6 linked regions of the Homo sapiens genome follow. The protein of the gene in region 4 purifies or fractionates together with the protein of the main gene of each other region. This does not show direct contact. Each region holds a gene or a part of one and is shown on either strand. Other genes may lie near its edges. The genes, in order: ZBTB34, TAB1, MAP3K7, TH, KDM3B and MTFR2.

Region 1 (3,955 bases), on a different chromosome or scaffold from region 4:
TTTCGAAACTCCCAACATTTCATTTTGAAAAACCTCAAACAGAAAAGGTGAGAAAATTTCACAATAAGTGCCCAGATATCCACCATGTAGACTCTACAATTGTTAACATTTTACTGTGTTTGCTTTATCACATATCTGTCCATCTCTTTTTTGGAGATACATTCTCAAGTTGAAGACATGAGTAAACTTCACTCCTAAACCCAGATTTTACGTGTTTTCTCATTGTCTAAGTAGTTTTATTCCATTTAGATTTTTTTCTGATCTAATACTTAGGAGGTGTTTACATTTCTGTTGGTCAGGTTTTAAAATATAATTGTTAGATCTGGTTTTGTTATGTTTCTGTCAGAGGATGGAGCCGGGGCTATATATACTTAAGTAGTTCTGAGCAGTCTGGCGCTGCAGATTTTAGGCCACAGGAAGGAAACCTGTTGTAGGTGTGCCGCAGCTGTGAGCGCTAGTAGAAGGTGATTCCTTTTGATGTGTCCATCACCCTTTCACTCTTGTTGTCTAAAATAACTACTGTTTAAAAACACTGTCTTGGCAGAGCGCGGTGGCTCACGCCTGTTATCTCAGCACTTTGGGAGGCCGTGGCAGGCAGATCACTTGAGGTCAGGAGTTCGAGACCAGCCTGGCTAACATGGTGAAACCCCATCTCTACTGAAAATACAAAAACTAGCTGGGTGTGGTGGTGCACGCCTGTAGTCCAGCTACTCAGGAGGCTGAGGCAGGAGGATCACTTGAACCCAGGAGGCAGATGTTGCAGTGAGCCAAGATCATGCCATTGCACTCCGGACGACAGAGCGAGACTCCATCTGTAAAAATAAAATAAAAATAAATAAAATAAAATATTGTCTAAAATAACTCTTCACTGGTCGGGTGTGGCAGCTCACACTTGCAATCCTAGCACTTTGGGAAGCTGAGGTGGGAGGATCACGAGCTCAGGAGTTCAAGACCAGCCTGGGCAACATAATGAGACCTCATCTCTAATAAAAAATAGTAATAATAGGCCGGTGTGGTGACTCTTGCCTGTAATCCCAGGACTTTGGGAGGCCGAGGGGAGCAGATCACCTGAGGTCAGGAGTTCGAGACCAGCCTGGACAACATGGTGAAATCCCGTCTCTTCTAAAAATACAAAAATTAACTGGGCATGGTAGCGCATGCCTGTAATCCCAGCTATTCAGGAGGCTGAGGCATGAGAATTGCTTGAACCTAGGAGGCGGAGGTTTCAGTGAGCCGAGATCACGCCACTGCACTCCAGCCTGTGCAACAGAGCAAGATTCTGTCTCAAAAAAAAAAAAAAGTAATAATAACTCTTCACTGAAGGAGACTGAGCATGGTAAGTCTCAGCCAAAGCAACCCAACCCAAAAGAGATATAAAGGTGTACAGAGCTGAAGGGCAAACACACAAATCAAGACAATAATACTGAAAAGGGTTTAGCTCCATTTATTGTATCCAGTGTGCTACAGAGTTGAAAAATACCAATCAGAAATACACAAGTAAGGTAGAACATTTTTAGATGAATTTAGTTTTGTTTTTGTTTTGTTTTTTTTTTTTTTTTAGAAGGAGTCTCACTCTGTCCGCTAGGCTGGGATGCAGTGGTGTGCTCTCGGCTCACTGCAACCTCTGCCTTCTGAGGTCAAGCGATTCCCCTGCTGCAGCCTCCCAAGTAGCTGGAATTACAGGTGCACAACACCACACCAGGCTAATTTTTGTATTTTTAGTACAGATGGGGTTTTACCATGTTGGCCAGGTTGGTTTCAAACTCCTGACCTCAAGTGATCCGCCTCCCTCAGCCTCCCAAAGTGCTGGGATTATAGGTGTAAGCCACTGCGCCTGGCCTGAATTTAGTTATTTTTCACAAAGTACTTCAAACCCTCAAAAGTACTTGAAATGGGGAAATATTTTTCCTAAAAGGAGACCAATTTCTCAGTCAGAGCCAAAATAGTCCTACTATGTGTAAAATATTTTACTTTTGATCAAGATGAATATTAGGCAATTATGACATTAGGCTAATTGATCATTAGTTTATTTGGCTTTAGGTGAATTAACCAAAACATGAAAGACTAAAACAAGGGGAAGAATGCTTCAGGTAGATTTTAGGAGGTATGATAGCCACAATGGTATTGTTGTTGTAAGCTTGTGTTTATGCCACTTGTACTTAGTGAGGAGTCATTGGTGAATGATGCAAACTCTCTCTCTCCGCAGAGTACGCTTCATGTCAGTAGAAATGGACAGCAGCAGTTTTATTCAGTTTGATGTGCCCGAGTACAGCAGCACCGTTCTGAGCCAGCTAAACGAACTCCGCCTGCAGGGGAAACTATGTGACATCATTGTACACATTCAGGGTCAGCCATTCCGAGCCCACAAAGCAGTCCTTGCTGCCAGCTCCCCATATTTCCGGGACCATTCAGCGTTAAGTACCATGAGTGGCTTGTCAATATCAGTGATTAAAAATCCCAATGTGTTTGAGCAGTTGCTTTCTTTTTGTTACACTGGAAGAATGTCCTTGCAGCTGAAGGATGTTGTCAGTTTTCTGACTGCAGCCAGCTTTCTTCAGATGCAGTGTGTCATTGACAAGTGCACGCAGATCCTAGAGAGCATCCATTCCAAAATCAGCGTTGGAGATGTTGACTCTGTTACCGTCGGTGCTGAAGAGAATCCCGAGAGTCGAAACGGAGTGAAAGACAGCAGCTTCTTTGCCAACCCAGTGGAGATCTCTCCTCCATATTGCTCTCAGGGACGGCAGCCCACCGCAAGCAGTGACCTCCGGATGGAGACGACCCCCAGCAAAGCTTTGCGCAGCCGCTTACAGGAGGAGGGGCACTCAGACCGCGGGAGCAGTGGGAGCGTTTCTGAATATGAGATTCAGATAGAGGGAGACCATGAGCAAGGAGACCTATTGGTGAGGGAGAGCCAGATCACCGAGGTGAAAGTGAAGATGGAGAAGTCCGACCGGCCCAGCTGTTCCGACAGCTCCTCCCTGGGTGACGATGGGTACCACACCGAGATGGTTGATGGGGAACAAGTTGTGGCAGTGAATGTGGGCTCCTATGGTTCTGTGCTCCAGCACGCATACTCCTATTCCCAAGCAGCCTCACAGCCAACCAATGTATCAGAAGCTTTTGGAAGTTTGAGTAATTCCAGCCCATCCAGGTCCATGCTGAGCTGTTTCCGAGGAGGGCGTGCCCGCCAGAAGCGGGCTTTGTCTGTCCACCTGCACAGTGACCTGCAGGGCCTGGTGCAGGGCTCTGACAGTGAAGCCATGATGAACAACCCCGGGTATGAGAGCAGTCCCCGGGAGAGGAGTGCGAGAGGGCATTGGTACCCGTACAATGAGAGGTTGATCTGTATTTACTGTGGAAAGTCCTTCAACCAGAAAGGAAGCCTTGATAGGCACATGCGACTCCATATGGGAATCACCCCCTTTGTGTGCAAGTTCTGTGGGAAGAAGTACACACGGAAGGACCAACTGGAGTACCACATCCGGGGCCATACAGATGATAAACCATTCCGCTGTGAGATCTGCGGGAAGTGCTTTCCATTCCAAGGTACCCTCAACCAGCACTTGCGGAAAAACCACCCAGGCGTTGCTGAAGTCAGGAGTCGCATTGAGTCCCCCGAGAGAACAGATGTGTACGTGGAACAGAAACTAGAAAATGACGCATCGGCCTCAGAGATGGGCCTAGATTCCCGGATGGAAATTCACACAGTGTCTGATGCTCCCGATTAAGATGGTAAAGAAGTGCACCCAAACAAAGCACATTAATCAATGCATATTTGTGATTTGCTTTGTTGTAATCTTTGGTTTTCCCAACCATCTGGAAATCTCTTGGTCTCTTGGCAGTTTTTCTAAAGTTTCTGGATGGAACACTTCGTTGTGTTTATCCTTTCCCCTGCCCTCCCTCCCCGAAGGAGCTCAAAGCATGAAGGGCAACGCATCCAGGGAAAACACAG
Region 2 (3,955 bases), on a different chromosome or scaffold from region 4:
ACTATACATTAGTTACAATGTACACTATAAAACACTATACATTAGTTACAACGTACACTATAAAACACTATACATTAGTTACAATGTACACTATAAAACACTATACATTAGTTACAATGTACACTATAAAACACTATACATTAGTTACAATGTACACTATAAAACACTATACATTAGTTACAATGTACACTATAAAACACTATACATTACTTACAATGTACACTACTGGAATAACTGGTTTACTAAGATCTCAGAATTCACCACTACATAATTCATCCCTATAACAAAAAAATACTGGTACCTCAAAAGCTACTGAAATAAAAATTAATTTTCAAATTTTAAAGAAGACTTTTTCCTCATGATATTGATTGATTGATTGAGACAGAGTCTTGCTCTGTTGCTCAGGCTGGAGTGCAGTGGTGCGATCTTGGCTCACTGCAACCTCCACCTCCCGGGTTCAAGCGATTCTCCTGCCTCAGCCTCCTGAGTAGCTGGGATTACAGGTGCCTGCCACCACACCCGGCTAATTTTTGTATTTTTAGTAGAGACGGGGCTTCACCATGTTGGCCAGGCTGGTCTCGAACTCCTGACCTCAAGTGATCCGCCTGCCTCGGCTTCCCAAAGTCCTGGGATTACAAGCATGAGCCACTGTGCCCGGCCAATACATGATTTTTAATTAAAAAGGACAAAGCAGGCTGGGCACAGTGGCTCATGCCTACAATCCCAGCATCTTGGGAGGCCAAGGTAGGAGGATCACTTGAGACCAGGAGTTTGAGATTAACCTGGGCGATACAGTGAGACCCTGTCTCTACCAAAAAAACAAAACAAAGAAAACAACCAAAATTAGCCAGGTGTGGTGGCACACACCTATAGTTCCAGCTACTCAGGAGGCTAAGGCTGGAGGATCGGTTGAACCCAGAAGGTTGAGGGTGCAGTGACCCGTGATCACGCCACTGCACTCCAGTCTGGGTGACACAGCAAGTCTTAAAAAAAAAAAAAAAAAAGTCAAAGCAGAAAAGGTTATCTTCCTACAAGAATCACAGAAAGGAGGAGGAACACAAACTGAACTTATCTTAGCCAGTCAGCAATCCAAGGAGGTCAGGGAAAGACAGTTTTCCTTTGAGACCATCCCTAACGTGACTGTCTTGAAGTCACACTTTGGTGACTCCAAGGTATAAGAAAAATAAGCAACTCTTGGCTGAGGGCCTGTGTCTACCACGCCTAACCTCACTGCGATCTCACAAAGGCAGATGTTACCATCCTCACTGTAGAAATGAGAAGTGAACTGCCGGGCGCGGTGGCTCACGCCTGTAATCCCAGCACTTTGGGAGGCTGAGGTGGGTGGATCACAAGGTCAGGAGTTGGAGACCAGCCTGGTGAAACCCTGTCTCTACTAAAAATACAAAAATTAGCTGGGCGTGGTGGCAGACACCTGTAATCCCAGCTACTTGGGAGGCTGAGGCAGAGAACTGCTTGAACCCGGGAGGCGGAGATTGCAGTGAGCCGAGATCATGCCACTGTACTCTAGCCTGCGTGACAGAGGGAGACGCTGTCTCAAAAAAAAAAAAAAAAAAAAAAAAAAGAAATGAGAAGCAAACTATAAATTGTCTGCCACTCAGGGAGGGCAGTAAAGCCGTCAGGCCCTTGGCAGGAAGTGATGGGTGTGGGAAGGACTCTGCACATCTCTTTCTGTGCTCTCCTCCTGGCCCTGGCCCCTTCCTGGCCGTCTCAGAGTAATGCCGTGCCCATAGCAATTCACATCCATCTCCCCCTCTTCCCTTCAGACCTTGCTCAGGCCCTGAGGACTGGCACTGCTTCAAGCCTAAAATGAGTCAAGTTTTTGGGTGGGATGGGTGTTTTCAGAGCTCTGGGATTCTCCTTCCCCCAGCTTTGAACCCAGAGATGTCTGGTGACGGCCTCCGAGAATCACAGTGCTAGAAGGCAGGGTGAGCACATCACCATGCAGGCCAGCCACGCTCTCCGGCCATGGGCGTGGCTGGGCCCAACTCACCTGGTTGGCCTGCCCAGGCCCATGGGCTGCCTCTAGGGCCTTGTACAACCCCTCCGACATCAGCACCAAGAAGCCCGTCACCCCATCCAGCGGCTGTGCCCCATGGATTTCTGGCTCTGCGATGATTGGTTTGGACTTGGCAGCGCTATGGGGAGAGAGTGGAAGGAAGAGCTTTGCTTGGAACAGCCCGCAGGTGGATGCTGATTCTGCTGAGGGGAGGAATCTATGCCCAGAATGTAAAATAAAACACACAACCTGACAAGAGGAAAAGAAAAGAGAGAAAGAGAAGGTCAGAAAAATAGACCCATCGTCTTACAGCAGCTGCTAAAATAAAGCTTGGAAGGCCATAAAAACTGGCAGGCAGCTGAGGTCAGGATGGCAAAGGTTGAATGCCCGATTCTGGCCTGTTCCATACGTCCTGTTCACAGGGTCCGGTGGTGGCAGGGCAGGGTGTGGGACAGCAAGAGGGAGGGATTATCCCTGGGAGCCCAAGCCTCTTGCTATTATTTGGGCTTTTCCAAAACAGATGGCTGAGACCCCAGATACTCTCCATGTGTACAGGGATCCTTTAGTGACTGGGGTCAGAGTCATTACATGCCAACACATGTGTGTGCACATGGAGGTAAGTACATGAGGAGGTGCTGGCAACACCATCCAGAAGAGCGGAGTCTAAGAACTTCCTGAGGGTCCGTCAGCCAGGGCTGGGCCCTGGGAGCGGTTATTACACAGAATGACGCCATCCTAACTGCAGGTGAGCAGAATGAAGAGATGAGCACCTTTAATGATAGCAGTGAGGGGTGTGTAAACATATCTCCAAACTCATCAAGTTGTATGCATGAAATAGGCACAGCTTTGCATATGCCAATTACACCTTAGGGTTTAAAAAAAAAGAAAAGAAGGAGGAGCAGGACACACCAGCACCTGGGAGGGGCAGGACACACCAGCACCTGGGAGGGGCAGGACACACCAGCACCTGGGAGGGGCAGGACACACCAGCACCTGGGTGTTCCGAAAAGGATGCAGGCTCCTTGGCCCCCAGGACAAACACACACACACACACACACACACACACACACACACACACACACAGAGAGAGACACCCCAGCACCTGGGTGTTCCGAAAAGGATGCAGGCTCCTTGGCCCCCAGGACAAACACACACACACACACACACACACACACACACACACACACACAGAGACACCGTGTGTGTATATGTGCATGTGGCCAGATTTTGGAACAGGATACACAAGAAACTAGCAGCCTCTGGGGAGGCAGCGAGTCCTAGAGTGTGGTGTAGGAAGACTTCCTTTCCCTGTATAGACCCCAGCACTGTCTGAAGTGTTTTAAACTATGGATGTCCTTTCCAATAAAGGAAACAGGACCCCACAAATTAGGGACAAATATTCGACACTCAGTTGCCTAGATCGCGTGAGGGCAAGGAGTTCTAACATGCACTTTCTAGGCCATGAGGCCTCTGTTGATGGGAACTCTGGCTTTGGGAACAGCCTTGGCCATGACATTAAATGCCATGATTGGCATCAGGCAAGTGGACGCGCCTATCTCCCCAACCAACACTTCACATACAGGTTACCTGACGGTTAAGGACACATATTCCAAATTCAGGCTGCCTGTGTTCAAGCCCCATGACCAGGGTGGGCTGCCTGATGTCTCCATGCCTCAGTTTCCTCTTATGAAAATGCCTCTGGGGTGATGGCAGTGACTGCCTCAGGGGGCCTGAGTAGGGAATGCATAAAAGAAGGTACATCCAGAGCTCTGCACGGGCTTGGCCGTGTGATGATGACTGCCCATTCTGCTGCCATGAGCGCTGGGGTGATGTCCAGAGGAGGTGTCCTCAGAGGGAAATACACAATTCATCTCACACCTCTGCTGCAGCCATGGGCAGCACCGACCAACAGGCCTGGTCTGTCCATCCCATGCCAAC
Region 3 (3,955 bases), on a different chromosome or scaffold from region 4:
AGAACAGACGGCCAGAGATGTAAGATGGAATCTAGGCTAGTATGGTATCTCGGAGGCCAACTGAAGAAAGTGCTGTCTGTAAGAAGGAGAAAGTAATGAATTAGGTCAAGTGCTACTGAGAGTCAAGATGAGAAATGAAAATGATTCCTTAAATGTAGTGATGTAGAGATAACTAGTGACCTTGACAAGAACAATTCTGAAGTACTGGCATAATACGTCTGAATGGAGTCAGCTCAAGAAAGAAGGGGAAAAGAGAAGCTAGTGAATGCAAATACAGACTACGTATGTTTTAGGAATGATCCAGTAGAAAGCTAAAACTGATGATGCAAGAGACAGGGGAGAATTGCTCAGAGGAGCAGATGGGATATAATGCACAGGCAGAAAGGTACACCTTTGGCCAGAAGTATGGATAGTTTAGCCAGAGTAACAGAAGAAAGCAGAGTAGATGGGCACAGATGTTGTGGAAGCTGTCTTCCGATTACTCCAATTTTCTCAGAGAAAGAGCAAACAAGATCAGCTGAGAGTGAGGAGTGGCGAGGAGGTGTTTGAAGTCTGAGGAGAGGCTACAGTATAAAATTAAGACATATAGGAGGAAAGAGATGAACTACAATACAGTACAACTGTCCAATAGCACTAAACATGCACGTGAGGATAGTAAACCTGTGCTATCTCCAGCCACACTCAGCTGCATTGGTACAGGCAAGGAGTAAGCCGAGTGTCAGCTTTCATTAGGCTTGTGGTTTAGCCAAGCAAGCTTGAGAGAGAGGCTAGAAAGATGAAAATTATTCCCAAAAGAATTATAATAGTTGATTGGAATTAAGTGGAGGGAGAAAGAAAAAAGGACCTAAGAGGACTGAGGACCAGTGAAAAGGTGGGAGGCTCAAAAAATTCAAGGTCACAGTAAGGAAATGAAGAGAGAGTTTAGAGGACGTGGGAGACACAAATGATAGAATTTTAGAGAAGTACATTTTAGAATTCAGAGCAACTCAAAATATTTTCAGTAAAACTGGAATTTGAGAATAACTAGCCAAGCAGTAACCATCTTAAAATAAATAAAACTATTCTTGAGGTGGGAGAAATAGATCAGTAAAAGTATTTTTCAATAAATGCAGGGTAAATACATGTGCATATAGACACACACATATCTTTAAGTTTCAATTAATAATGAAATGCTTATAATGCCACTATATTTTGAGAAGTACAATATTTCTAAGTTACAGTATTATTTCTACTATCTTTTTGATGACCACAAATTACATGTCCCACTACTACTTCACATTTCGGAAAACTAAGGAACTTTTAACATAGCTTCTTAAATCAGAGCCTCTGTAGAAGAGAACAAAAACTAGGGTGTTCGTGATGAAGAAATGTTTAAATACATTTACAATAATTTCTAATACTACTTGATCTAGTAGTATGCATGTAAAAGTGATTTTTCAAGTTAAGAATGACATTCACTGTAATACAATATGCCATCTTTTTATTCATAATTATGTAGGAATTCTAAGACTTGGAAGCAGGTCTTCAATAACTCTTTAATCAGGGTACCTACATGAAGAATGACGCACCTGTAAACTCAAATTGCAGTCAATCATATGAAATGAAGGAATTAAAATGCAAATGGGGACATTATTCATTACTTCTTGATTATAATTTCATGGGAATAGAGATGAAAGAAAAATCAAGTCAATACTCTTCCAATCTATCCATTTACCTGTACTGGTGGCAGAGTTGCTCTGTCCTTCATCTGAATACTGACAAGGATACTGTAATGGCTCATCTGCTCCTGGAAAGTACTATATATAAAAAAGTAAACCACAGCTTAAAATTTCCTTAATACAAATTAAATCCTGATTAATGTTTTATTTTCCCTAAGTTATATACTAAATTTGTAGGTGCCTAAGTTTTTTATTTTACAAAGATTACAATAATGTACTCTTGGATTTCAACTTTGATCAATGCCATGCACCTACCTAAGAATCTAGCTTACATTGGAGTCTAGATAGTCTTGAAGAAAACAGCAAATATTTCTCTAGAGAAACATATGAAATAAAATAGTATCATTTCTCATAATTATGTAAAACATACTCATGTTCTTACAGTAGTGATGTAAACTTCCAGTGACTGTTAGTCTGAAGACTGAGACTAGTATACCATAGAATAATTGTTAGAACATTTTAAATATTAAGAGGATAGATTATGAATGTCTTTCTACAAACTGGAGGCATAATACTCAAAGTATCTGCTGGACAAAAATGTTAGAATTTAGAGAAAAAAAGGAAACGTATTCTCCTCAAATTAGACAAGGAACAGAGAAGCAAAATTACAACTGCAATAACTTATATATCCTAAAGTTTTAAGTAATCTGACTACAGAGACTAAGTTGTTTTCTTATGCACACACCTTTAAGGCCTAGGCTTCTATATATGACTGGTATCCAAATACGATGGTAAACTTTTAGTAGATTAGTTCAAGCTGCTTTGCGTAAGAAATTTTCAATAGATTGAATAAACAACGTTTTACCATTTAGGAAATTACTTAGTCTATATTTAAGGAGATTGTAAGATTCTTCTACTGAACAAACTGTTTCAAAATTCAGGCACTTTCATAGATATTTGAACTTTTTAAAGCCAAGATACCACTTCACAGTTTTTGTTAATGTACCAAAAACCAGAGGCGTAAAATATTCCAAATAATTCTAAAGGCGCTTGATTCACAGACTAGGAAAATTTGATAATCATTTAAAAGGGTTCTTCTAAATAGAAGAAAGTTTAACTTTTTACTGGGATATAAAAACCTGAAAATAGGCCAAATAGTAAAAGTCACTCAAATAAATGTGTCTGAGAATGCAACCTATTGCCTTGCATAAATGACTAAATGCTTGATGAAAATTGGTATCAGAAAAATGTAAAATTTAGTTTATCATGTATTGAAGTCATAATATTAATATATCCAAGTCCTGTGATGGCTTTAGAGACTATCTATTTCAGTTTCTCCCACATTACAAATGAGGCAACAGGCCCAGAGACAAACATACTTGTCCACTAATGTAAGCAAAAAGAAAAAAGCAAGTCTAGAAACCTAGTCTAGCCATCTTTCCAGTGATAAAGAACTAGATTTTCCCTCTCGAAATGTTTCCTCTTCTGACTATGAGTAATAAATGCCCATTCTCACTTAGAAAACATAGCAATATATAAAGCAGAATATAGTAATAACATCCCTTTTAAAATTCCATTAAAACTCAGCACATATTAAATTCCCCTAAATCCAAAGCCCCTCAAAAGAAGGATTATACCCGCATCAAGTGAGTCATTATTTTCACAATTTCCTCCATTGAAGGGCGCTGGGAAGGATCTTTAGACCAACAACGAGTCATCAGGCTCTCAATGGGCTTAGGTAAATTTTTTATCAGTGGTGGTCGAGTACCTACAATTGAAAATGAGAGGAAGGGGGGAAGAATGTATTTACCCAAAGAATGATGCAAACTCTTTGTACGTATTTCCAAAGTGGTATTTATTTTATAGATCTTGTAGTTTAAGATCTGTAATTTGGAGTAATAAAAGTGCTTTGTAATTTTATCAATTAACAAGTTAGTTCTTTTACTCTTTACTTCACGGACGTTCAATTATTTACTGACAACTGATAGAAAGCAAGCAAGCAAGCTGTCCTGGTCAATGCTGAACAGTCTCCACAATGATACTAATGGTAGTAATATTAAAGGCAGTATAGGAAACTGGTAAAAACAGCTAAGATTACTCAGATGATGGTACTGTTTGATAAATCTATGAATGACCTAAATAATTAGGCAGACATTTGTTTTTAGACTTGTGGAATAATGTAAAAAATGGCCATTAGTCACATGATTATAAACAAGGCATAGAAATGAAATAACTAAGAGTGGCGCTAAAATTAAGAAGGTAAGTAATTTTCCTTCATGAAAAGCTATTTTCCCAAG
Region 4 (3,149 bases):
TCCAAGGTAGGAAGGGGACACCCTGGCCGGTCAAGCCTGGAGGGTGTTGGGTGCTCTCTCTGGAGGGCAATGTCCAGGCCCCTCGAGTAAGCCAGGGGCATCTTACAGAGTCTGAAATCCAGCCCCCATCCTGCCTCGCTGGGGAGACAGGCCCAGACCATCTGCCTGGGCACCAGCTCAGCCAGACCCTCCCCATCAGCACACATGCTGGGGGCCACACTGAGGTTCCCCTTGGTTCGCAGGGCCTGCTCCGGGTGGGTGAGGGCATCAGGGCAGCTGTTCCTCCATCCCTGTTTCTCTCAAGGGCTGGGAGCCCTGTCAGCAGGGAGGGTTAGGCCTGCAGGCCCACCTCTGAGACCACCCCCAGCCAGCACAGTTTGTGACCCCTGCTCCCTGCCAGGCCTGAGAGAGGCCCTCCCACTGTCACGTGGCTCCCCACCTTGGGAGGGCACCCCACGGAGATGGGGCAGCTCGGCCAGGGTGCCCGAGCCTCTGGAGCTGCTTGGGGCTCAGAGCTGGGCGGGGCCTCAGGGTGAGCGGGGAAACCAGGCCCGGAGGGGCCAGCTGCCTGGCCAGGGCGGCCAGCCATCTCCCAGAGGAGGAAGGAGGCCAGGGCGAAACCTCTGAGTGAGGCTGGGGTGGGGGTGTGGGAGTCTGAGGATCCCAGGGTCTGTCTCTGTGGCACAGATGTGGGGCCAGGCAGGTGTAGAGACCACAGTTTCTTTTATTGTGACGGTGATTGGGGCAGCAGACAGTGTCAGGGAAGGGCGGAGGGCAGTGCAGCAGCCCCCAGGACCCTGGGAGCCAGGACAGGACCTCACCACAGGCAGCACAACCTCACCACGGGCACACACAGCTGTTGCGCTGAGAAGCAGGTGCAGGGGCAGTGGGAGCCTGGCAGCAGGGAGGGCATGGGGGGCACCCGGGACCCAGCCCCTCACCAGGGCCTGAGCTCCGGGACAGTGCAGGACCAGGGGAGGTTGGGAAGGGCCCTCAGGGACGCCGTGCACCTAGCCAATGGCACTCAGCGCATGGGCAAGGGTGTCCAGCTCATCCTGGACACCCTCCAGGGAGCGCCGCACGGCCTGGGGGCTGTCCAGCACGTCGATGGCCAGCGTGTACGGGTCGAACTTCACGGAGAAGGGGCGCTGGATGCGTGAGGCATAGCTCCTGGGGAGGAGAGCGGCAGAGCCCTCGTCAACTGGCGGGCAGAGTCTGCAGCCTCCAGGAGAGGGGAGGCCAGGGGCCGCGTTTCCACCTTCACAGTGGCTCAGAGCTCCCAGGGCTTTTCTGAGCCAACTGGTCACAGGCGGGACACTGAGGCCTCTTCCAGGGCTGGGTGAGGGGGTTCATGGGGGAGATAGGCTAGGCGCCTTTTCCACTAGAGACTGCCGGGCACCCCATCCCTCCCTGAACCTCCACTGGGCCTCCTCCAGGAAGCTTTCCTTGACCATATCCCTAAGCCTGTGGGTGGAATTCAGCACCCCTGTCCGCTGGACACATAGCCCCTGGCCTCAGTTTCCCCAGTGCATAAGAGGCTGGAGGGAAAATGATGAGACCTTTTATGAGGATGAGGCTAGAGGGCTTTGCTCCCCTCTCCTGACACTCTGGTCACTGCACCAAAGGCCCCCAGCCCTGGGGACCCCACTCCCGCCCTGTCCCCCACCTTGACTCTGTCTATCCCCCTGACTTCTCCCCATCCCAGGGCAGGGGGCCGGGACAGGTTCCACAGGACGTCCTCACAAAGCTCAGGCTCTGTCAGCACCTCCAAGACTGGCCTTGACCCGGCCACCCAGCAGCCCCCAGTCCTGTAGGTCTGCCCCTCCCCAGACGCTGGGGTCCTTCTCACGGATGGTGTCCCTGCTGTGTGGGGGCTGCTGCAACCAGGGGTCGGTTTTCTCATCTGTGACCTGGGCTCACAGGTCCAGCCCTGCTCAAGGCCAGAAGGAAGGCCTGGCTGGCCCAGTTTGGGGGCACCATGGGGGGCTTGCCCTAGCAGCCTAGCCCACCTGAGCTTGTCCTTGGCGTCACTGAAGCTCTCAGACACGAAGTAGACTGACTGGTACGTCTGGTCTTGGTAGGGCTGCACGGCCGCAGCCTCAGGGTCGAAGGCCCGAATCTCAGGCTCCTCAGACAGGCAGTGCTGGCAGGAGGCCAATGGCATCACTGACTCCACTGCACCCAGGTCCCCGAGGGAACTGGGGCACCGTGGCCTGACGCTGGGTGGGTTCCTTGGGTAGAGTCACCCCCATCTCCCCCGCCGGGCCTTCGGAGGCCTGGGATAATGTGGGGTGAGGACTGGGCAGAGACAAGCCTTCTCCCAAACAGAGCCTGAGTCCTGGAGGTCCAGGCCTCAGTTTCCTCCCACTGGGAGCCTGTCCCCTCCCTGCACCGTCCCCCAGCCCTGCCCCTCTGCTGGGGGCTGCAGCAAGGAGAGACTCTCACCAGGAGCTCCCCGTAGGAGGACAGCAGCCCGGCACCATAGGCCTTCACCTCCCCGTTCTGCTTACACAGCCCGAACTCCACCGTGAACCAGTACAGCTGCGGGGAAGCCGGGCAGCATCAGCCCAGAGACAGCTGCCGCCCACCGGGCAGCCCCTGGTCACCCGTGACCAGGATACCACCCCCAGGGAGGCCAGGCCAGGATGCAGGCAGGCCAGGGTGAGGGTCACAATTCGTGGGTGGAAGGAGAGGCCTCAGCCTGGACGGCAAGAGGGTGAGGCCTGGATTCAGACCCCCAAACCCACACCCCAGGCCCTGCAGGGAGGGGTCAACCCACCGTGGACAGCTTCTCAATTTCCTCATCCGAGGCCCCCAGGGACGCCAGGCCAATGTCCTGTGGAGCAGGGAGGATGAAGGATGGGGAGAGGCAGCCCTGGGTCATGCTCGAGGTGGGGGCACCGGGGGTGTCAGCAGCCCCTCCAGGGGTCTCTGGGACACTTCCCTGGCGGCAGAGACCTTCCCTGGCCGCCCAGGATCCGCACCTCCACCGGGCCTCCTCCTCCAGGCAGCCCTCCTTGACCACATTCCTAAGCCCGTGGGCGCCGTTCCCAGGTAGCCGGCAGGTGGCAGCACAGGCCGTGGGAGGCTCCGCTCCAGCCCCGCCCTATGCCGCGCGACCCTCGGGGCGCCGAGCCTCCTTGGCGGGG
Region 5 (3,955 bases), on a different chromosome or scaffold from region 4:
TTTGCTACGTTGGTCAGGTTAGTCTCGAACTCCTGACCTCAAGTGATCTGTCCGCCTCAGCCTCCCAAAGTGCTGGGATTACAGGTGTGAGCCACTGTGCCCAGCCTCTTTTCTATCTTTTAGATATTGTACCTTATGAATTCATTCATTCAATAAATGCTTACTAAACATGACTGGATCAAACACCATGGCACTAGGGATATATTATAGAACAGTCAAAAATGCCTTTAGGAGAGGCAAGAAACAGAAAATCAAACATGTAATAGGTCAGATGGTAATGAGTGCTGTGAAAAAAACAAAGCAGGGAAAATCGGTATGTGCAGAACTGACAGTGTGATGGAATTTTAAAAAGGGTGATGTATGAAGAAAGGGTTACTGAAGGTTTAGGTGAGGGAGCTGATGATGAAGCAAGTGAGGTAGTTACATGGGAAAGAAATTCTAGGTGGAGGAAATAACAAGTGCAAAGGCCCTGAAGAGGGAGCATGCCAGGCCATGTTCAAAGAACAGCAAGAAGGTGGGTGTGGCTGGAACGGAGTGAACAGAACAGAGAGTGGTAGTTGAAGACAGGGAGGTGAGAGCAAGATGAACAGATAGGGCTATGGCCTCATAGTCCAGGTGCGTGACTCTACTCATCTGTAAGCACTACAAGGACTCTGCTCATCTTACGAGAGAAAAAGGAAGCCCTTGAAGGATTTCAGGCAGAGGTTAAGATATGATCTGACTTATATTTTATTATTTTTCTCCTTTTCTTTTATTTTTCTTTATTTCTTAATAAAAAGCCTCCCATGGGATGACATATTTTAAAAGAACCTCTCTAGCTACTGTGTTGAAAATACACTGTAGACTGTAAAGGGCAGAAACAAGGGGACCTGTAAGGAATTTATTGCAAAAACTTAGGCAAGATGTTGGCTCAGAACAGAGGAAGCAACAGAGCTGATGAAAAATGAGTGGATTCTGAATATAGTTTGAAGATCAAATTTGAAAGGATTTGCTAACAAATTAGATATGAAAGGTAAGACAGGCGAGTCCCAAATGATTCTAAGATTTCTGGTGCAAGCAATCACAAGGGCAGAGATGCCACCAACCAGTAGGGGAAAACTAAGGAGAAGCAAGCTTATGGTCAGAAGATCAGGAGTTCAGGCTTAGGCGCATTAAAGGTTTGAGACATCTATTAGATATCCAAGAGAATACAATACAAATGTACTGTCCAGGTTAAAAAAAAATTAATGCCTGCTATTATCAAGAAAAACAAGCAATCAATGTATTAACTTTTCTGCTGATGACCGAAACATTTCAAAATCTCAACTTTTACAGACTTCCTAACATGGTACAAAAGGTTCACTACTTAAAAAGATTCCCAAAACTTTAAAGAGAGACCTTGTCAGCTTGACAATGTAGAGAACACAAATCACCCATGTACCCTCTAACCCAATTATCTGATCTCTGATGGTTCTTTCATGGAAAAGCTGAAAAGGCTACAGTTGCAGAGGACACTTACTGCTGAGGATGTAGAGAAGACCGGGGGAAAGGGTATGCCTGTGTCCAAGGGGGTTTGAGGAAGTTTTCCCGGCCCGGAGTGAAGGAGGTCTCGAAGGCTAGACCCTTCGGTTTTGTTGTTGGAGGCAGTGGGACCCAGCAACAGACTGTTAAAAAGCTTTGGAGTCAGCGGAGAGACCTTTGCAGTGGAGTTGAACGAGTCCAGCCCAAAGGGTGAATGAGACTCTTTATTGAGCACCGACCTCAGGGACCCTGCTTCTGTAAGAACATAACCAGGAACAGCATTAGGTACAAAAAGGAATAATCAGCACACAACTGACTCCTAAAAATCAGTCACATGGGAAGGAGGAAAGATTCTCTCCTTTCCCTTGCACCCCCCAAACTGTGTATGGTTTGTTTGGGTCAAGCCTTACAAGCTATAATTATAGGAGGTCTCACAGCCAAGGAGAAACTCTCCTACTACTTCTTTACCAGATCTGAATTTCAAACTCCCTTTTGTTGTCATCCATCTTTCATCTCCCTCACTTCCTAAGACAGTGTTTCAAGTGTATCTTCAGGATACCTGTACTGAAGTCACTTGGAGTGCTTGTTAAAAATGGAGATCTTTACCCCCAGAGATTCTGATTTCATAGTTCTGGGCGGGACACAGGAATCTGCATTTTTAACCATTCCCCAGATGATTCTTGTGCCCAGTGAAAACTTCTGCTCTAAGTCTAGCTCTCAACCCTGGCTGCATAACAGAACCATCTCAGAAGCTTGTTAAAAGTCTTGTATATGGCTGGGAATGGTGGCTCACGCCTATAATCCCAGCACTTTGGGAGGCCGAGGCAGGTGTATCACTTGAGGTCGGGAGTTTGAGACCAGCCTGACCAACATGGAGAAACCTCGTCTCTATTAAAAATACAAAAAAATTAGCTGGGCGTGGTGGCACATGCCTGTAATCCCAGCTACTTGGGAGGCTGAGGCAGGAGAATCACTTGAACCTGGGAGACGGAGGTTGCAGTGAGCCAAGATCGCGCCACTGCACTCCAGCCGGAACTCCAGGCAACAAGAGCAAAACTCCGTCTCAAAACAAACAAACAAAAAAAACCCCTTGTATAAATTCTGACTAGAGATCCAGGGTAGGGCCCAGGCATCTGCCTTTTTAGAGAAGTTCCACTTCTAGAAAGAAGTTGAAAGGTAGTCCCTCATATATATGTGTGTGTGTGTGTGTGTGTGTGTGTGTGTGTGTGTGTATGTGTGTGTATATATATGTGTGTGTGTATATATATATGTATATATATATATATATATATTTTTTTTTTTTTTTTTGAGACAGAGTCTTGCTGTTACCCAGGCTGGAGTGCAGTGGCATGATCTTGGCTCACTGCAGGCTGTGCCCCCCAGGTTCATGCCATTCTCCTGCCTCAGCCTCCCAAGTAGCTGGGACTACAGGCACCCGCCACCTCGCCCAGCTAATTTTTTTGTATTTTTAGTAGAGACGGGGTTTCACCATGTTAGCCAGGATGGTCTTGATCTCCTGACCTCGCGATCTGCCCGCCTTGCCTCCCAAAGTGCTGGGATTACACGCGTGAGCCACCACGCCAGGCCCCGGCAGTCCCTCATGTGATTAGCCAGAGAAAGTAAGTAGCATGTTTCATAAATGTGGATGGTAATGTGTGAGTTCAAAGAATCCTGGAAAAAACTCATGATTTCTACCATAGGCAGAGCAGAGGTTTGTGTGCATCTCACCTTTTGTTTCTTCTTTAGCCTTCTGAGTTGCTAAATCTGCCAACCAGTGCAGGGCGGAGGAGGGTGGGGCCGTGTCAGGGCAAGGAGGCCTGATGGCTTTCAGTTCACTATTGCTATTTGATGCCGAACTGTCTGTTTTCAGAGGCTCTTCAGATCTGATGTCAGTGCTGTCGGCTTTGGGAACATGGTCCGGCTCTGGAGTTGTTACTGGTGCCGGTCCTCCTCCACCAGAGAAGGTAGTTTCGTTTCCAGAAGAGGCACTAGGGTTTATGCTAGGAAGCTAAAATGCAGAAGGCCAACATAATTAGAGTGCTGTGCTTGGGTAGAAAAAAATACAACTAGTAATGGCTTCACATACTAAATAGGTCTGGGAAGAATAATCTGTCATGTAAACTGGCATTTCATACATTATTTAATTCAACATATATTTATTGAGTCCTACAACATGCCAGAAACCAGGCTAGCTTCTGTGGAAAGATCAGTGAACAAGGCTTGAAGTTTGTAATCTAAAATAGTTAGCATGCCTGACACAATTTCTGCAATGGTGAATTGGTAATTTAAATGACCTCGTAGTGCTGTTCTTAGGATTACATAAAATAGCATATGCAAAGGGCTTAGCATAGTTCTGACACAGATAAATGCTAAATAAATGTTTATTACTCTTACTGATTTTTCTAAATAATTTGCTTTATCTATTTACATACTCTATATAGTCAACTCTACTGAA
Region 6 (3,955 bases), on a different chromosome or scaffold from region 4:
AGAACTTGAACACAAAGCTGTAACATAAACAACACATCTGAGAAAAACTGAAAAATTAATTTTACATTAGTGTAGCTTACCCTTGAAGTTTCTGGACTAGAAAATGGGGAAGATTCCCAAGATCTATTCTCTTTCTCAAAAGAATCATCTTCTTGAAATGCAAATTTCTGTTTAAGTGCATGAGATATTAAAGAAACTGGATCCCAATGTGAATTCTGTCTTTTCCTCTTATGAATGGGTCTACCGCCAGGTGACCTATTTTTTAAAAAAAAAAATTGAATTTATTAAAACTTGGATGTAATTTTAGCTCCTTGTTGACAAACATGGCAGGAATACAAGCATATCTTACAATTTAATTAGTCTTCAAGAGATTGAAAATAATCTAATCTTCAAGAAATTTTCGCAATGAAATAAGGAAGGCACAATGAATGAAGAATCAGAAAACCAAGAACCCATGTGACTTGAGACTCTGCCATAACCTTGTTATGACCTGAGATTTGTCAGATGTCACTATGCTGAAGATCTTTATTATGGTAATTTTCTAATTTCCTAATGGGTAGGAAAATTCAAATAAATAAGAACTTTTAAAAGGACGAGAGTTCATGCCAAAAAAAAAAAAATTACGCAAATTGTTCATTTGTTTGGTTGTTCATTCATTTAATCTTCATTGAATGCCCACTACCACATCCGACTCCATTTTATGCTTTGGGAGTATTCTGCTCCCAATTCTTACAGCAAGATTATCATCAATATACAAGTAAGATCATTTGGCTGGTAATAAGAGCTGTGAATAAAACAAAACAGAGGCTGGGCACGGTAGCTCATGCCTATAATCCCAGCACTTTAGGAGGCCAAGGTGGGAGGACTGCCTGAGCCCAGGAGTTCGAGAGCAGCTTGGGTAACATAGCGAGACCCCATCTCTAGAAAAAATTTAAAAATTAGCCAGGCAACTACTTGGGAGGTTAAGGCAGGAGGATCACTTGAGCCAAGGAGGTCAAGCCTGCAGCAAGTCATGGCACCACTACACTCCAGCCTGGGTGACAGAGCAACACCCTGTCTCAAAAAAAAAAAAAAAAAACTAAATTAAAAAATAAAAAATAGGGAAATGTAATAGTGATTAGGGACAGAAGCACTTTAGATATGATCAGAAAAAAAGCCTCTTTAAGGAAGCAACATCCTCTTTAAGAAAATGACAAGGGGTCAGTTTTAGTGTAAACATCTGGGGCTGCATCAGGAAGGAGCTTGGCATGTGTGAGAAACGGAAAAAAGAAAGCAACTGCAGCTGGAGTGCAGTGGGCAAACATGGGGCATAGGAGAGGAGCTCAGCGAGAGAAGTGAGGGCTGGCTCCTGGAGGGGCCTACGGACACAGCAAGGGCTCTAGAACTGATTCAAGCACAACGGAAACCCACAGAAGAGTCTGAAGCAGGAGAATGGCCTGATCTGACTTCTGGTCACTATCTGCAGAATAAATAAGGAGGCAAGAATGAAAACAGATCACTGAGGAGGCTGCTGCGGAAGTCTAAGCTAGATAAGAATGGGCTTAGCCTGGGGAGTTGGCAGTGGAGGTCAAGAGGTCCACAGAATTGAGCTATGTGCTGATGGGAACGGTGGGAGATAGAATGGAAAATAAAGATGAAGGATGATTCCTAGATATTTGTTTTTGTTTTTTTGAGACGGAGTCTCGCTTTGTCACCAAGGCTGGAGTATAGTGGCTCACTGCAACCTCCGCCTCCCGGGCTCAAACAATTAATTCTCCTGCCTCAGCCTCCTAGTAGCTGGGATTACAGGTGTGCGCCATCATGTCAGGGTAATTTTTGTATTTTTAGTAGAGACTGGGTTTCACCATGTTGGCCAGGCTGGTCTCGAACTCCTGACCTCGAGTGATCTGCCCACCTCAGCCTCTCAAAGTGCTGTGTTTACTGGTGTGAGCCACCGCACCTGGCCTGATTCCTAGATCTTAAGCAACCGGGTGATCGTGTTGCCATTTGCTAATATGCAAAAGACGTGGGAAAGAACAGGTTTTCAAGGTGGCGGAAAAGAACAGGTAGGAAGGAAAAGTCCTGTTTTGGACCTGTGAAACGAGATACCTGTGAGACAGGCAAATAAAGATGTCAAGTAGGCATTTCAGTATGTGCATCTGGGCTCAAGAGGAGAGGTCAGGGCTAGAAAAATAAACGTTTGAGTCATAAGCATACAGCTGGTATTTAGAGTCATAGGACTAGGTGAGCTCACCAAAGGAAACAGCATGGACAGAGAAGAGAGGGGGCTGAGGTCTGAACCAGGTATTTCAACATTTAAAGACCAGGCCCAGGGGGAAGAGTTTAAGGAATAAGAAGGAATAGCTGATGAGGTCAGAGGAAACCTGGGGGTATGCTTTCCCAGAAACCAAGTAAAGAAAGTGCTCCAGGCTAGGCGCAGTGGCTCATGCCTGTAATCCCAGCACTTTGGGAGGCCAAGGTGGTCGGATCATGCGGTCAAGAGATCGAGACCATCCTGGCCAATACGGTGAAACCCTATCTCTACTAAAAATACAAAAATTAGCTGAGCATGGTGGCACATGCCTGTAGTCCCAGCTACTCGGGAGGCCGAGGCAGGAGAATCACTTGAATCCAGGAGGCAGAGGTTGCAGTGAGCCGAGATCACGCCACTGCACTCCAGCCTGGCAACAGAGCGAGACTCCGTCTCAAAAAAAAAAAGAAAGTGCTCCAAGGAGGTGGGGACCATAGGCTGTATCAAATGCTGCCAAGAGGTCAACTAAGACGAGCAATGCTAAGAGACCAGTGGATTTAGCCACATGGAGTCACTGGTGAAGCAGTTTTCAATGGAGTTTTCATGGGTAGAAGGCAGCAGCGATAGACAGAAACAAATTATAGACGACTTCAAGAATTCATATCAGAAAGGGGAGCAGAACAACAGAACAACGGCTGAGAGTACATGTGTTTTGAAGGTGGGAAGTACTCAGGTGTGAGGAGAAGGATGAAGTATAGAAGGAAGACTCAGTGATGCAGAAGGGCTCATTTTAAGTGAAATCCTTGTGAAGAGGAAAGAGAAGGGAAACCAGTAACCAAAGGAAGAGCCTGGCCATGAATGATGACACTTGGCTCCCAACAGCAAGATGGAAGGCAGAGAATCTGCACGGGGAATCTGTAGGTGTAAAGAGGTGAGAGAGCTCATCTGATTCCTCAGCAACGTACAAAACAAAGTTAGCTGTAGAGGCAACTCAGGAGAGAATAGGGGGACAGGAGGCAGAGGCTACTGGCCTTTTAGTTGTTTTTCCAGTGATGGTAACAGTCACAGAGTTGCCACTTGATACTAAGCCCGACAACACAAGTACAAGATCTAGTTGGGACCAAGCATGCACCTACAGCCATGAGATTCTTCTCAACAAGCTGCCTCATGCTCTTCCTGTGGTTACTGGTTTCCCTTCTCTTTCCTCTTCACAAGGATTTCACTTAAAATGAGCCCTTCTGCATCGTTGCAAGGATCAAACTCACAACCTCATTAAAAACAGAACTGACTTATCTGTCCCAGGACTATCATACAGAAAATATATCTATTTTCTCACCGAAAACCTCACTGAGGGATTTCCAAGTAAGCATGGCAAATCCCTTGTGAAATCCTACTAAAATGACAGTAAAGAAATGAAAAAGATCTATATATCCACAAGGACAAAGAGATTAGAAGGGGAGACAGGAGATAAGAATTGCAACCAGATGCCGGAAGCTGGAAAGCTGATGAAAGTGAGAGCATGGGGCGTGGGCGCCCTGCTGAACACAGGGCGTGTGCTAAATAAGACACTTCTCTCTTGCTCCTCTTTCCCCACTCAGCTCTCCAATGACCTGACTTGCACCCGCTGTGTAATCCCCATCCCTCCTGACCACAAGGGAGAATGAAGAACTTTCTAAGGAAAATCCTGTAGCCCAAAAGAAAAGACATACAGCTCTGGGGTGTGGC

The links.
Region 1: the proteins of TH (region 4) and ZBTB34 purify together in Homo sapiens (affinity purification with mass spectrometry; 2 studies listed by BioGRID and IntAct, with this or other methods). This does not show direct contact.
Region 2: the proteins of TH (region 4) and TAB1 purify together in Homo sapiens (affinity purification with mass spectrometry; one large-scale study listed by BioGRID and IntAct). This does not show direct contact.
Region 3: the proteins of TH (region 4) and MAP3K7 purify together in Homo sapiens (affinity purification with mass spectrometry; 2 studies listed by BioGRID and IntAct, with this or other methods). This does not show direct contact.
Region 5: the proteins of TH (region 4) and KDM3B purify together in Homo sapiens (affinity purification with mass spectrometry; 2 studies listed by BioGRID and IntAct, with this or other methods). This does not show direct contact.
Region 6: the proteins of TH (region 4) and MTFR2 purify together in Homo sapiens (affinity purification with mass spectrometry; 2 studies listed by BioGRID and IntAct, with this or other methods). This does not show direct contact.

What each region holds. Positions count from the first base shown.
Region 1 is NC_000009.12:126,877,184-126,881,138, forward strand, and holds part of ZBTB34 (zinc finger and BTB domain-containing protein 34), read left to right. Parts: intron 1-2,206; coding exon of another isoform or gene 2,207-2,216; coding exon 2,217-3,731; 3' UTR 3,732-3,955. UniProt on the Homo sapiens protein: May be a transcriptional repressor.
Region 2 is NC_000022.11:39,420,028-39,423,982, reverse strand, and holds part of TAB1 (TGF-beta-activated kinase 1 and MAP3K7-binding protein 1), read right to left. Parts: intron 2,157-3,955; coding exon 2,012-2,156; intron 1-2,011. UniProt on the Homo sapiens protein: Key adapter protein that plays an essential role in JNK and NF-kappa-B activation and proinflammatory cytokines production in response to stimulation with TLRs and cytokines.
Region 3 is NC_000006.12:90,548,754-90,552,708, forward strand, and holds part of MAP3K7 (mitogen-activated protein kinase kinase kinase 7), read right to left. Parts: intron 3,427-3,955; coding exon 3,296-3,426; intron 1,797-3,295; coding exon 1,715-1,796; intron 1-1,714. UniProt on the Homo sapiens protein: Serine/threonine kinase which acts as an essential component of the MAP kinase signal transduction pathway. Plays an important role in the cascades of cellular responses evoked by changes in the environment.
Region 4 is NC_000011.10:2,163,223-2,166,371, forward strand, and holds the end of TH (tyrosine 3-monooxygenase), read right to left. Parts: intron 2,837-3,149; coding exon 2,780-2,836; intron 2,542-2,779; coding exon 2,446-2,541; intron 2,144-2,445; coding exon 2,010-2,143; intron 1,171-2,009; coding exon 1,011-1,170; 3' UTR 707-1,010; downstream 1-706. UniProt on the Homo sapiens protein: Catalyzes the conversion of L-tyrosine to L-dihydroxyphenylalanine (L-Dopa), the rate-limiting step in the biosynthesis of catecholamines, dopamine, noradrenaline, and adrenaline. Uses tetrahydrobiopterin and molecular oxygen to convert tyrosine to L-Dopa.
Region 5 is NC_000005.10:138,418,506-138,422,460, reverse strand, and holds part of KDM3B (lysine-specific demethylase 3B), read right to left. Parts: intron 3,509-3,955; coding exon 3,229-3,508; intron 1,756-3,228; coding exon 1,499-1,755; intron 1-1,498. UniProt on the Homo sapiens protein: Histone demethylase that specifically demethylates 'Lys-9' of histone H3, thereby playing a central role in histone code. Demethylation of Lys residue generates formaldehyde and succinate. May have tumor suppressor activity.
Region 6 is NC_000006.12:136,233,245-136,237,199, forward strand, and holds part of MTFR2 (mitochondrial fission regulator 2), read right to left. Parts: intron 256-3,955; coding exon 81-255; intron 1-80. UniProt on the Homo sapiens protein: May play a role in mitochondrial aerobic respiration essentially in the testis. Can also promote mitochondrial fission.